Linked DNA regions of Homo sapiens. The protein of the gene in region 4 purifies or fractionates together with the protein of the main gene of each other region. This does not show direct contact. Each region holds a gene or a part of one and is shown on either strand. Other genes may lie near its edges.

Evidence for each region. Proteins that work in one complex are often made in the same cells at the same time.
Region 1: the proteins of SIRPD (region 4) and METRN purify together in Homo sapiens (affinity purification with mass spectrometry; one large-scale study listed by BioGRID and IntAct). This does not show direct contact.
Region 2: the proteins of SIRPD (region 4) and MELTF purify together in Homo sapiens (affinity purification with mass spectrometry; one large-scale study listed by BioGRID and IntAct). This does not show direct contact.
Region 3: the proteins of SIRPD (region 4) and GUSB purify together in Homo sapiens (affinity purification with mass spectrometry; one large-scale study listed by BioGRID and IntAct). This does not show direct contact.

What each region holds. Positions count from the first base shown.
Region 1 is NC_000016.10:713,684-717,917, reverse strand, and holds the start of METRN (meteorin precursor), read right to left. Parts: upstream 2,801-4,234; 5' UTR 2,629-2,800; coding exon 2,525-2,628; intron 2,335-2,524; coding exon 1,934-2,334; intron 986-1,933; coding exon 926-985; intron 848-925; coding exon 531-847; 3' UTR 1-530. UniProt on the Homo sapiens protein: Involved in both glial cell differentiation and axonal network formation during neurogenesis. Promotes astrocyte differentiation and transforms cerebellar astrocytes into radial glia.
Region 2 is NC_000003.12:197,012,818-197,016,317, forward strand, and holds part of MELTF (melanotransferrin isoform 1 preproprotein), read right to left. Parts: coding exon 3,372-3,500; intron 2,700-3,371; coding exon 2,548-2,699; intron 1-2,547. UniProt on the Homo sapiens protein: Involved in iron cellular uptake. Seems to be internalized and then recycled back to the cell membrane. Binds a single atom of iron per subunit. Could also bind zinc.
Region 3 is NC_000007.14:65,960,184-65,962,698, forward strand, and holds the end of GUSB (beta-glucuronidase isoform 1 precursor), read right to left. Parts: intron 881-2,515; coding exon 714-880; 3' UTR 501-713; downstream 1-500. UniProt on the Homo sapiens protein: Plays an important role in the degradation of dermatan and keratan sulfates.
Region 4 is NC_000020.11:1,551,206-1,554,705, forward strand, and holds part of SIRPD (signal-regulatory protein delta isoform 1 precursor), read right to left. Parts: intron 845-3,500; exon of another isoform or gene 834-844; coding exon 486-833; intron 1-485.

The DNA of each region.
Region 1 (4,234 bases), on a different chromosome or scaffold from region 4:
CTTCCCTCACAGGCCTGGCTCAGAGCCGGAGCGCTGTGCGCCCGCCTGCCCCCACCGTACCCGAGGGACCCTATGCCCCTCTGCCCCTTTCCTCTCCTGCTGAGCCCCAGAAGCACCTGGCACGGGAGGCAAGTGGGAGCCAGCCAGGGAAGCAGGCAAGGGTGCGGGCAAGGACGGGGCTGGTGGGTGCAGCAGAGCAGAAGCTTGCATGAGTGCAGGTCCCCACGTGCCCCCCACCCAGCAGCGGCCCCTCCCCGGAATGTGGGTGTAGCTCCTCCTGACATCTGCTCTCCCTCTCAGTTGCCAAATGGTCTTGAACAAGATACCATTCCCCTGAGCCTCAGTCTCCCGCCAGGAGGCAGGAATTGGAGCCATCCTCACAGCTGCGAGGCAGGCCCAAGGCTGGGCTGGACACAGGAGACCAGGTCCACAGCAGCTTGCGTGAACAGAGTTCTTATTGATAGTCCCATCACCTCCAAAGCAGTGGGCCCACCCTCCCTCCTACCAGCCCCTCCCCAGCACCCAGCCCCTCAGTGCAGCGCCACCTCGCAGGGGTGGAGGTGGGCAGCACGGGCAGCCTCGTAGGCACGGCGGAACTCCTGGAATCGTGGGGCACAGCCCAGCCGGGCCTCCCCAAAGCGGCTCCAGCCCATGAAGAGGAAGGTGCCTGGGCCCGGGTGGACGCCACAGCGCAGTGGGGTACGAATGGAGGTCAGCCCCTGGTCCCCGGATCGCCCCGCCTGGAACAGCGGCGGTGTCTGGCGGAGGACACGGGCGGCCACCACAGTGATGACAGACTCCTGCAGCTCCACGTCATGGGTGACCCCATGGATGATCCCGTGAATTACTGTGGGGAGGCATGTGGCTGCGGTAGGCATTCAGGGGAAGGCAGGCTCCAGGCTCCCCCCATGGCGGGGACACTCACCGAAGTCGCTGGTGCATGCGGCCAGGAGCAGCTCAGCGTCGCTGCAGGGCCTGCAGGCACCTGGCATGCAGAGGGGGTGGTGAGGAGAGGCCCTGCCCTCTCCCGGCATCACCCCAGGCCCCGTCCCTTGTCCGCACAAGCGGCAGGAGGCAGCAGGCAAATGAGCAGAGCCCACGCTCAGGGCCTGATGGCACCTGGGGGTCCCAGAGAGCTACACAGCAGATGTGCACGCCCTCGGCGACACCTGTACTCAGGAAACACACTTGCAGGCGCGTACCTCCAAGGCAGGAATGCACACAGACGTGGGCCTGGGGGCCATGCCTAGCGATCAGCTGTCCTGGGCCGCCCTCCTGCACTCCCATCTGACATATGCACCCCAGCATCTGGGACCCCTCTAGTTTCCCGGATCTGAGGTCTGAAGAGCAGCAGCCCAGCTAGGGTGATAGGAAGTGGGGGCAGAGGAAGGGTGGTCTGGGGTCCCTGGCCCAGGGCCAGGGGGCAGAATAGCGAGAGCCCATCCCTTTCAGGGTCAGGCGCCAAGCTCCAGGAGAGCCAAGCAAGAGCTGGGCCTGGTGCCCTGCAGGGAGGCGAGCGGCGTCTCCATGGTGACCGGGCTGCACACTGGACTTTTGTTGGTTGGGCTGGGGGAGGGGAGAGAGGTCACCGCTGGGCCAGGGAGCCCCGGACAGCTTTGGCCGGAGGCTTCGATTCTGTCCCCACCATCTCTTCCCCCAACCGTTCAGGGACCAGAGGCCCAGGATTGCTGGGCCCGGCCTCCCCTTCCCTCCACTCTGCCCCTGCCAGCTCTTTCCAGAGATGAATCGGGAAGGGAGGGCGGGGAGGCCATCCCTCCCCAGCAGTCCCAGGCTGTGTGGCCTGACAAGCCCATCCAACCCTTGTAGCTCACTTTTTCCTTCTGCAGTGGGGCCGACAAGGCACATTCCCGCCAAGCCCAGGCAGGGTAAGACTTCGGGACTCCCACCCTGTCCCAACCAGACCGCCACTCACCGTCTACGCCGAGACCGTGGGCCTGCGGGGGCAGCTCGGGGCGCCCGTCCTCGCGCAGCTCAAAGCGGAAGGCGGCCACGCGGCGGCTGATGTCCTGGTGCGGCGTGGCCTGCAGGAAGAGGGCCCGGCGCTCGCGGGGACCCCAGCGCACGCAGCGGCCCCCTGCCGGGCCCGGGCCCTCGGCCAGCAGCAGCTCCAGGGCGCCCCCTGCGCGCTCCGCGAAGACCTGGGCGCCCGCGAAGGGCCGCACCGGCCGCAGACAGGCGATGCCGGGCCGCGCTCTGGGATCGGGGCCGCCCAGGGTCAGGCGCAGCGCCCCAGCCGGGTACAGCCACTCAACCGCGCCCTCCGCACAGGCCAGGGCCAGCTGCCCCACGCTGCCGGGCTCCTGGGTGAGGCCGCTGGGGACAGGACGGGACGGGGCGCTGAGACGGGGGCGGGTCCCCGCCCGGCGCAGCCCCCGCTCCCTCCCGAGGCCGCCTCGCGGATGGGGAAACCGGCCCAGCGCTCTGCGCGCTCCGAGGGGCGCCTGGGGGGTCCTAGCCGCAGCGCACCCCGTCCTAAGTGCGGGGACAGCCCCCCGGACCGTACCTGCCCCTCCAGCTGCAGCGCTCCTCGGAGTAGCCGGCGCGGGCAGCCGGGGCCAGGAGGCCGCAGCACAGCGCGCAGAGCAGCGCCGCGGCCGGGAACCCCATGGCACGGCGGGCGGCGTCCGGGGAGTCGGGGCTCTCACCACCGCTGCCCCGGCGGGGCGCGGGTCCGGGCGGCGGCGGGAGCAGCCGGGGGCGCCGGCCGCCCGGCCCCGGCGAAGCCCCCAAGCCCGCGGCCGCTCCGCCTGCCGCGCAGCCCCAGCGCCGGGGCCGCCTTGGAGCGGGTCGGGAAGGGGGCGGGGCCTGCGGCGTGTCGGCCAGTCGCGGCGCGGCCCGGAACTTTCCGCCAATAGCAGGCGCGGGGCGGAGCGGGGGCGGGGCCGGAGCTCGGGCGCCGCCGGAGGACTATCCCACGGTCCAAGCGCCTCGAGGGTTGGGGGGGGCCTTGGCGCGGAAGGGAGGCTCCTTGCCCGCCCCGCGCTGTGCGTCTCTCCTTCGCCGCGCCCTCACCCTGGCCTCGCCCCCCGCGCTGTCCCGATCGGAGTCCTGGAGCCTCTGATGGAGCCGAGGTTTTGATGTCCACTGGAACCTCGGGGTGGCGGTAGGGAAGGTGGCCCACCTGGTGGTTCCGCCTCGCGGGCGGCCGGGCCTGCTCCTTCCTAACACTGGGACCTGGGCCTGTTGGCCACATCCCTCCCAACCAGGTCCGGTCCTGCTGACCAGAGGCCGGTGGAGCCCCAGAGGAGAGGGGTCATGACTCCAGAGGCGGGGAAGGCCTGGCCTGGGGGCTGCGCCTTGGAGCGGGGCCAGGCCTCGGGTTTTGGTAAGGCCGTCTGCAGGAGGGGGTCCTGCTGAAGAGCGCGCAGCCCGCAGGCTTAGGCCCCTTTCCTCAGACCTAGCGGCACCCCATAGTTGCCGGATGACCGACCCCGGGCCAGACGGGGCTCCTGGAGGGGCGTGAATGGAGCAGCCACGGGCACCCCTGCAGGCCTGCAGCACGTGGAGACACAGGAGCTGGGAGGACACCCCTGGGCCACAGGAGCAGCCCCCACCAAGATGAAACAAGCAGAAACAGGCGATTCGCAAACACACTGTAGCCTCAGGCTGGAGCAGTGTGGGATTCCCAGCATCCGGGACTGCTGAGTTGGCCTGATGGGAGGAAGTGGGCAGTGGCTGGCCAGGTGGACAGGAAGAGAATGGGGGAGAGCAGACAGCCTGGGTCAAGGGCCTGAGGAAGGAGCTCTTGGCAGCCCAGTGAAACCCCAGGGCATGGGTGGTGGGTGGGGACGACAGGTCAGATCACAGAAGGCCTAAGGCACAAGCAAAGGGGTCCCACTACATACTGAACCCCTTACGGACGACAGAAGCTTTAGCCGGGGACTGCAAGGACCAGCATAGACTGTGCAGCCTGAAGATGTGAACATTCCGTCCCCTGCCCCCAAACCTCCTGCCACCCGGCGCTCGAAACTCATGGTGGACAGATGAGTTCACCAGTGGCAGTCGGACAGATGAGGCCAGATGGCTCAGTGGCAGTGGGAGGCTGGATCCCACTGACCAGGCCCTCCCTCAACCCCAGGGCCCTCCCAGGCCAAACAGGAACAAGGCGCCTACTGGGCTCGGCCAGCCCCTTGCTCTGGGCGAGGTGCAGGTCAGAAGTAGCCATCACAATCCCCAAAAGGTGGAAGACTCCCAAAGGCCTGTCTGCAGCTGA
Region 2 (3,500 bases), on a different chromosome or scaffold from region 4:
ATGGGGGCCAAATCGAGTGGGTCATGACAAGTGTCAGGAAAAAAAGGATTAGAATAGAATACATTAGAAAATAGTGGGTACCATTTGTGTCATATCTCTGTATATAAAGGACATACATTTTTAAATTTCTATCTGAAAGAAAAGTTTCCGTTCACTAGATTGTGATCAATGCAAAATGTATTCTGAGTGCTCGGTGCTGTCAGCAATGCTGAACTTCCCTATGAAAATTCCAATGACATTCTTTACAGAATTAGAAAGAACAATCCTAAACTTTGTATGGAACCACAAGGGACCCTGAATAGCCAAAGCAATCCTAAGCAAAAAGAACAAAGATAGAGGCATAGAAACGGACATATAGACCAATGATCCAGAATAGAGAACCCAGAAATTAACCCGCAGTTTTACAGCCAGCTGATTTTTGACAAAGGTTTCAAGAACCTCTTTGGGAAAAGAGTGATCTCTTCTTCAGTGGACGCTGCTGGGAAGAAGCTGAATGTCCAAGTGCAGAATGAACGGGGCCCTAAACTACCCCTCACCCAGCACAGGGACCAACTCAAAATGGATGAGAGGCCTAAATGCAGGGCCCAAGACAATAAAATTGCTGAAGAGAATATAGGCAAAACGCTTCAGGACATTGGTCTGAGAAAAGATTTTATGAAAAGACCTCGAAAGCATAGGCAACAAAAGCAATAATAAGCAAAGGGAATTGTATCAAACAAACAAGTTTCTGCACAGCAGAGAAAACAACGAACAGAGTGAAATGAAGACAGCCTATGGAATGAGAGAAAATATTTGCAAACTACTCATCCAACAGGGGATTAATATCCAGAATACACATGCAACGGAAACATCTCAACAGCAGAAAACCATCCAACTTAAAAACGGGCAAATGATCAGAACAGACGTTTCTCAAAAGAAGACATACAAAATGCCAGCAGCCATCACTGATCATCAGGGAAATGCAAATCAAAGCCACAGTGAGGTATCAGCTCACCCCAGTTAGGGTGGCTGTTATCAAAAAGATAAAAAATAACAAATGCTAGTGAGGATGCAGAATAAAGGAAACTCTTACACACCGTTGCTGGGGATGTAAACCCGGACAGCCGCTATGGAAAACAGTACGGAAGTCCCTCCACAAACTACAAATCGAACTATTGAATACCATATGGTCCAGTAATCCCACCACTGGGAATCTGTCCAAAGGAAAGGCAATCAGCCTGTGGAAGGGATGCCCGCACCCCATGTTTATCGCAGCACTGGCCACAATAGCCAGGATGTGGAATCAACCCAGGTGTCCAACAACAGAGGATGGATAGAGAAAATGTCATTGGCATGCACCGTGGAATACTATTTAGCCATAAAAAAGAATGAAATCCTGTCACTGGCAGCAACACGGACGGAACTGGGGGACACCGTGTTATGTGAAATAAGCCAGGCACAGCAAGTTAAACACCATATGTTCCACTCATATGTGGAAGCTAAAAAAAGTTGATCTCACAGAAGTAAAAAGTAGAACAGAGGATGCTGCAGACTGGGAAGGGTAGGGGAAGGGAGGAATAGGGAGAGTTTTTTTTTTTTTTTTTTTTTTTGAGACAGTCTCTCTCTTGTCGCCCAGGCTGGAGTGCAATGGTGTGATCTCGGCTCCCTGCAACCTCCACCTCCCGGGTCCAAGCGATTCTCCTGCCTCAGCCTCCCAAGTAGTTGGGATTACAACTGTGTGCCACCATGCTCGGCTAATTTTTTTGTACTTTTAGTAGAAACAGAGTTTCACCATGTTGGCCAGGCTGGTCTTGAACTCCTAACCTCAAGTGATCCACCCACCTTGGCCTCCCAAAGTGCTGGGATTATAGGTGTGAGCCAATGCACCCAGCCAGGAGAGATAGGAGGAATAAGCTCCAGTGTTCTATAGACTGTAGGATGACTAGAGTTAACAATAATACATAGTTTCAAACAGGTAGGACGATATTGCATGTTCTCCACACGGAGAAATGAGCAATGTTTGAGATGATGGTATGTTAATTATTATCCTGCTCTGATCACCATGTATTCTATGTATCAAAACATCAGTATGTATCTCATGAATATGCACAATTATTATTTGTCTATTTAGAAAAATCAGGAAAAAAGAAAAAAAAAGTCGAACAATGATCCACGCCCACTCTCTATTGCACAAGGGAAGGCTGAGATTCAGAAAGGGGAAGGGGCTTGCCCCAGGCTACAGGGCGTCAGTGCCCAGCTGGGCCAGCGCTTCTTCTGCTCCTGGCACCCCCACTTAGTGAGGAGCTCCCAGGCTCTCCAGGGGACTCACCCCTATCTGCCTGTCCCCTGGGGTGGGTGCTGGCCCCTGCGGTCGCTCCTCCCCGCCTGTCTCTGTCCCCTGGGGTGGGTGCTGGCCCCTGCGGTCGCTCCTCCCCACCCGTCTCTGTGGGCTTGTTGCAGTAGACACTCTCCTCTTCCCCAGGCAGCAGGGGGTGTGGGTAGTAAGAACTGCCCAGGCACTGCCACCACCCGCCCACCTGGCCCACGCTGCACCTGCGTGACTCCCACCTGGATCCGCTCCATGCAGTGTTGGGGGGACTTGGCTGACACGCACTGGATCTCTGGCTTGAGCCGCTGCCGGCGGAAGGCCACGGCCATGTCTCCACACTTCTGGATCTCGGGAGTGGAGAGCACACACCAGCGCAGGTAGGGGGGCAGCCCTGGGGTGGGGCAAGCAAGCGGTCACTGCCAGGCCAGTACTGCCATGGAAGAGCATGGAGTCGGACCCAAGGGAAATTCTGGGCCTTTCTCCTGTCAGGTGTGTGGCTGGGATAAGTTATTTAACCATCGGATCCCACTTCCTCACACAGAAAAGGGGCAACTGTGAGGCCTGAGGAAGACCATGGCTGGCGTGCATGTAACTCAGTGTGTGGTACCCACTTCCCTGGCTGGAGGTGGAAGATACATGGGGCCAGGGGGCTAAAGGCAAGAAGCTCACTTGTAGACTACTGCAATAGTCCAGGCGAAAGATGGCACCTGCGCCAGGGCTGTAGCCATGGGGTAGAGGCGGGGAGTAGGAGCGAGAGGCTGTAGAAGAGCTGACAGGATGCCATGGCCGTGGATGGGGGGGCGAGGAGACCCTTCCCAAGACAGATTCTGATGGTCTGCATCCTCCCCCGCTGCGGCCAGGTGGGGCTTCCGAGGTACAACAGGCCATACAGTGGAAGAGATGCCTCCTCCCCAAAGCCCCAGGGGCAGAGGAATGGAAATGACAGGTTCCCGCAGAGGCCTCCCTGGTGAGCGTCTTCCCCCGGCCACTTTCCCAGAGAGCCTCGCCATGCCCGAGGTTGAGCTGGGCTGGAGCTGGCAGCAGTGGGGACAGGTGGACTTACGGTTGGGGTCACAGAGCAGACCCTTCATGGCGTGCAGGTACTCATGGCCCAGCCACGCCTCATAGGTCTGTGTGGCGATGGGCACAAGCTCCGAGGTAGAGTCTTTGAAGAGTAGATCCTTCTGGCCAT
Region 3 (2,515 bases), on a different chromosome or scaffold from region 4:
TTGTAGGCAAAGTTGTTTAAGGAGGTCCTGTCACATTCAGTGGCATCCGTTATGATAAAGCCAATAGGCTTTTACACTCATCTGTCCATTTCTGTCAAGACCCTATGGCTGAGGTCAAAACAATGTTCTGGGAGAACCAGTTACCTCTAACCTTCCAATTCAGACACTGCCAGCTTAACTATGTAGAAACTGGCACACAGACCCTGTTAAGTGCTGCAACAATGACAGCGTTTCTATGAATTTGTTGGTACATGTGGGACTTTAGCTCATCTGAGGAGTCGAACAGCAGCTGTGAAAGTCTTCTACTCACTCCCTGTCGAGGCTGGCCTGGTTTGCTACACAAACACGGTGGCCCTAGGACCATGGGGCTATTCCTGCAGACGCCCTCGGGAACCAGCTGCTCTGAACGTGGTGGGGGTGTTGGAGCAGCAGTTTCTCAAAAGTCCACACACAGTTAAAGCTCTGAAAACAGCACGACGCACAGAAATGATTTCAGATGCTTTTCAGTAGCCACTTTCATGCCAACTCTTTATTTCCATAATAGAAAATCTTTTATTTCCACCTTTAGTGTTCCCTGCTAGAATAGATGACCACAAAACCCAGGCCAGAAACGTTCTGGTCTGCCGTGAACAGTCCAGGAGGCACTTGTTCTGCTGCTGTGGAAGTCGCCCTGACTCGGGGAGGAAGGGACACGCAGGTGGTATCAGTCTTGCTCAAGTAAACAGGCTGTTTTCCAAACATTGTGACTTGGCTACTGAGTGGGGATACCTGGTTTCATTGGCAATCTTCCAGTATCTCTCTCGCAAAAGGAACGCTGCACTTTTTGGTTGTCTCTGCCGAGTGAAGATCCCCTTTTTATTCCCCAGCACTCTCGTCGGTGCTACAAAAAAAAAAAAAAGACACAAAGCGATTCAGATGTCTTCTGATGGGTCAAGTTAGAACCAGTCTGGAGCTAAGGTAGGCACTAAATAGAAATGTCTTTTTTTTTCTTTTTTCTCCCTGTTGCCCAGGCTGGAATGCGGTGACACAATCATAGCTCACTGCAGCCTCAACCTCCTGGGCTCAGGCAATCCTCCTGCCTCAGCCTCTCCAGCACCACCATGCCCGGTAATCTTTTATTTTTATTTTTTAGTAAAGACAAGGTCTCATTATGTTGTCCAGGCTGGTCTCAAACTACTGGGCTCAAGCAATCTGCCCTCCTTAGCCTCCCTAAAGTGCTGGGATTATAAGCACAAGCCACCATGCTCAGCCAAATGTCCTCTTACAGTTTCAGGATGCTTGCTCTGAAGTGACAATTTATGGGTTGAAATATTTAAATACCACTGCTCTGCCCAAACACCCAGGTTCCCTGGTGTGTTAATTTCTAGTTTTCTAGTCTGTTAGGGGAAAAAAACCCAAAACAGTGGCCAGGTGTGGTGGCCAACGCCTGTAATCCCAGTGCTTTGGGAGGCTGAGGCAGGTGGATCACCTGAGGTCAGGAGTTCAAGATCAGCCTGGCCAACATGAGGAAACCCGCCTCTATTAAAAATACAAAAACTGGCTGGGCACATTGGCTCATGCCTGTAATCCCAGCACTCTGGGAGGACAAAGCAGGCGGATCACAAGGTCAGGAGATTAAGACCAGCCTGGACAATATGGTGAAACCTCATCTCTACTAAAAATACAAAAATTATACAGGCATGGTGGTGGGTGCCTGTGGTCCCAGCTACTCAGGAGGCTGGGGCAGGAGAATCGCTTGAACCCAGGACGCAGAGGTTGCAGTGAGCTGAGATTGTGCCACTGCACTCCAGCCTGGGCGACAGAGTGAGACTCCATCTCCAAAAAAAAAAAAAGCACTAAAAGTTTATCTTTTATTTGCAAACTAAGGTTTACATGCTGGGTACCCAGCTGTCTGGTAACTGGGTAGGCAGAGGGCTAGGGGTATCTGGGACAGTTACCCTTGAAAAGCCTTGGGCCTTTCTGAAGAGATAGCGCCTAGTGGGAGCCAGGGTCCTGACCAGCCACAGGTCCCTGCGTGGGACCTACTCATGGAGTTCAAAGTCCGCCGGGGCTGACGTCCAGCTTGGCAGCACCCACCACTGGTGGTCATTAGGCCTGAGCTGAGCCTGGTGGAGGAGCACAGCTGGCAACGACCTGTCAGGGCTGTGCTCTCAGGACATTCTCTGTCCCCAGTAAGACCACCACTAAATGGAAATGTTAAATGGAAAGGGGGCTTTCCCCACCAAAAGGTTCAAGACTGTTTCTTCCATAAGTGAACACAGGCATCGCCAAGTACTTCATCAAATGCAGCCCTTACGACACCAACAAGGAGGTGGCATTATCCCCACTGGACAGGCTTATGAAAAGCTTAGGTGACTTGCCCAACGTGATGCAGCTCATTTCTTTTTTCTTTTTAAGACCGAGTTTCAGCTGGCCATGGTGGCTCATGCCTGTAATCCCAGCACTTTGGGAGGCCCAGATGTGCGGATCACCTGAGGTCGGTAGTTCAAGCCCAGCCTGACCAACATGGAGAAAC
Region 4 (3,500 bases):
CATCTAGACTTTTTCTCAACCTTATTCCCCTCATGGTCATAAGATGCCTGCTTAAAGCACCTGGAGCAACACAGTTGCTTGTTTCCAGCCAACAAAGGGAAGAATTACTTTAGATTACCAGATTTTTCTGCAAGCCTGTCTTTTTCTCTGATAGACCCAAACTGGCCAAGTTCAGCCCATATTTGAGTAAACCTCTAGCAGGGAACATGGAATTATCCTAGTTGGCTTAGGTTAGTCATGGGGGTGGATTAAATATTGAGAAATCAACCAAAATAGCTCTTATCACTCATCACTCAACCTTTTCAAGTCTTTTTTTCTTCCTGTAAAATACCTAACTCACAGCTTGCTGAGAGAATTAAAAAGATCAAATGTATGTTGTACCTTCAATAATATTTGGCACATAGCAATTATTGAATGAATAGAAGACATAACTGCTGAGATGATATTATACACCAGGGGGTATGGGGTATAGGAGACATACTCACCAGTAACAAACACCTGAGTGCCCCGACCTGATTGGTACTCCTTGATAGCTCTTCCTTTTATGAACTTCACGCAGTAATAGGTGCCAGCATCAGCAAGAGAGATTTCACGGATGCGGGTGGAAAAGTCTGTGTTGCCAGGCTTGGTGGTGTCTCCAATCTCTTTTACTCTGGGAAAGTTACCTTGTTTGAAATTGTAGATTAATTTCCGGTTTGGCCCTGTTCCCTTGAACCACAAGACAGGTCCATTTGGTAAGGTATTGGGTACGCTGCAACTCAAGATGATTGACTCCCCAGTTGATACAGTCTGTGACATCTCCGTTTGTTGCACATGGAACACATGTGTGACTCCTGGAAAAAAGCTGAAAATCATTTCTCATTTCCCCTGTTCTGGCTTAAGCATGGGTACGGGTCACGGTTGGGCCTCATTCATTAATTCTTTTAATGACATGCGCAAATGCCCATGCATTGAGTAAAGAGAGGCCTTTGCACATGGAGGCAGCTTCTCCCTAGAGTGCTGAAGGAAGGGAGTTAGTCCAGAAGACCAGATGTATTCCTCCTCAGTTCCATTCCTCAGCCCTCAACCGTGGTAAGAGGAGGACAGGGAGAGAGAAGGGGCAATTATCAATGGGTAATGTTCTTGGAGAAAGACTAGTTTCCCTATCCATCTAATTGCCTAGAGTCACTCGGTACATTTGGAACTGGGTTCAAGTCCTGTCCTTCAACCCTACATCTCCACTGAGTTTGGGGTTGGCCTTCCTCTCTCCTCTGAAGGGTGATTAGCCTCTGAATTTGTACAGAAATTCATGCTGAGAGATGCACAGAAGAAGTTAAAACAATTAAAGAATGAGGTGGTCTTGGCAACAGCATATGGTTCCACTACTTATCTCTTCAAGAGAGAGAAGGGAGAGGGTTTCCTCTCCTCAACAAAAAGAGATTAGAACCTCAAGGGCCCTCTACAATTTTGGAGGTTCTCACCAGCCACCCTTTACCCTCCTACACAGTCATCATCACTACCCTACAATGTGTCAGGTCCTGGTAATAATCTCTCCTATTAAGCTTGGTTGTCAAAACCACAGACTGCCTAAGGAGCAGGTTAGAGAGAAAGGGAACTCCTGGCTGGCAGGGCCAGGAGGTAATGGTAGGAAGGCAGCCTGCATTGACATTATGTAACTTAAGGGAAACCTGTGGATTTTCCATTGCCATTTTGGCATTATGGAATGTGTCTGGATTCAAGGGAAACATTACTGGGAAGGTCAGTTCTCCTGGTAGAACTGAGGGACACCTAATACCACTGTATTTCATGACGTTAATTCAGAGGGTGGTGAGGAGAAGGAAATACTGGTTATCCTGGGAATAAAAATACTGGGAATTAAAGAACAGTGGGGCTGGGCATGGAAGTCTCAGGACAGACCTGGGAAAGTTCAAGTGTCAGGGAATGACTCAACCCCTATGGGAAGGCTTTTTGCAAAAAAGACTTTGGAGAGATTGATACACAAGACCCCTCATTCTGGTCTAAGAATTCCCTAACAACAGTGCCAGGCCATGGTAGGAGATCACATCCACTCATTGACTTGTATGGGGAATGGGAGTGTGATCTCAGACTGGACTGTGGTGACCACTCAGGTACTTGCTATCAGGTCCCCATCACATTCCAGTTGGTAATGGGAAGGTGACTGGGATCATGGAGGCATGTAGAGATTCTACCTGCCTGAAGAGCCCTTTGTTTTGGCCCAGGAGATACTGGGCATTTTGGGGAAAACTTCACCTATGTTGAGATTCCATCAGAAGCTAAGATGTGGCTACTAGCATCTGTGACTGGAAGTTCAGGGTCATGGAATAAGTCATAATATACACAATGCATATACCTGGGCCCAGGTTTCTTCGTAAAACCTTAGAAGTCAGTCAGCCTTCTAGGACCCAGTTTTCTTACCATTTAGGCCATGCAGTGCACACATGTAGTTGCACCTTGCATATCCAGTATCTTTTTATTTGTAAATGTCTCCTATGTCATTGGGTTCTGGTGGGGTTGGCATCAGAGAAGGATGTGGCTTGTCAACATAGCTTGATTCAGTATTTGGCACAGGTTGTCCAGAATGGCTTACTAGAAAGGCTATTAGAAGAAACCTAGTCTACAGGGTAGTTCGTGGATAAAGGAGCATGGTGTTCAGTATGTAGTGATGATTTGGTACATGGTGAAGGGTTTTAAAGATTCATCTTCATAAACCCAGGGAATAAAGTGCATCAGGCTGTGCTCACCATTCACATACACGGTGGTGCCTGGACCAGAGAAAAACTCCATGTCAGGGTGTCCTACCCTTAACTTCACACAGTAGTAGGTGCCAGCATCCTCTGGCAACACGTCACTGATGCGAATGGAATAGTCAGTTTGATCAACCATTGTGTTTTCCACTGGAGTTACTCTGGGGAAGTGGCTTCCATTGCAACTAAAGATTAATTGTTGTCCTGGCCCAATGCTCTTGAACCACAAGACAGGCCCTTCTGGGGACAGAGCAGACATATTGCAGGCCAGGGTTAGGACATCTCCGGGATTGACTGACACTAAAGTCTGAGGCTATTTCACCTGGAACTCTTCTTCTGGAGTTCCTGGAAATAAACATGGAATCATCTCTTATGTTCTCTGTCTTGGCTCAAGATGCTCTGAGGGTCTGGTTATAGGTCAAGGTGGGATCTCAGTATGATAGCTTTATTTCAGCATCATGTGATGGCACCAGTCATATAAAAATTACAATGCTGGGTGCCATGTGAGGTGAAGGGGAGGTACCAGTGTACAAATAGGAGAATGACACTTTCCTTCTGCATCGGGATATGAGGATGGCCTGCAATATATTAGGCACTAAATAAACATATTTTAAATAAATATATGAGTATATTTTTATTAAATGAGAAAATGCAAAATAGAATTTGGGTCAGATTTTTCTAATTGTCTCAAAATCAGGGATACTGCCCCAAGCTAAGGACAGTATGTTGATAACCAACATACTGCATATGGAGTGA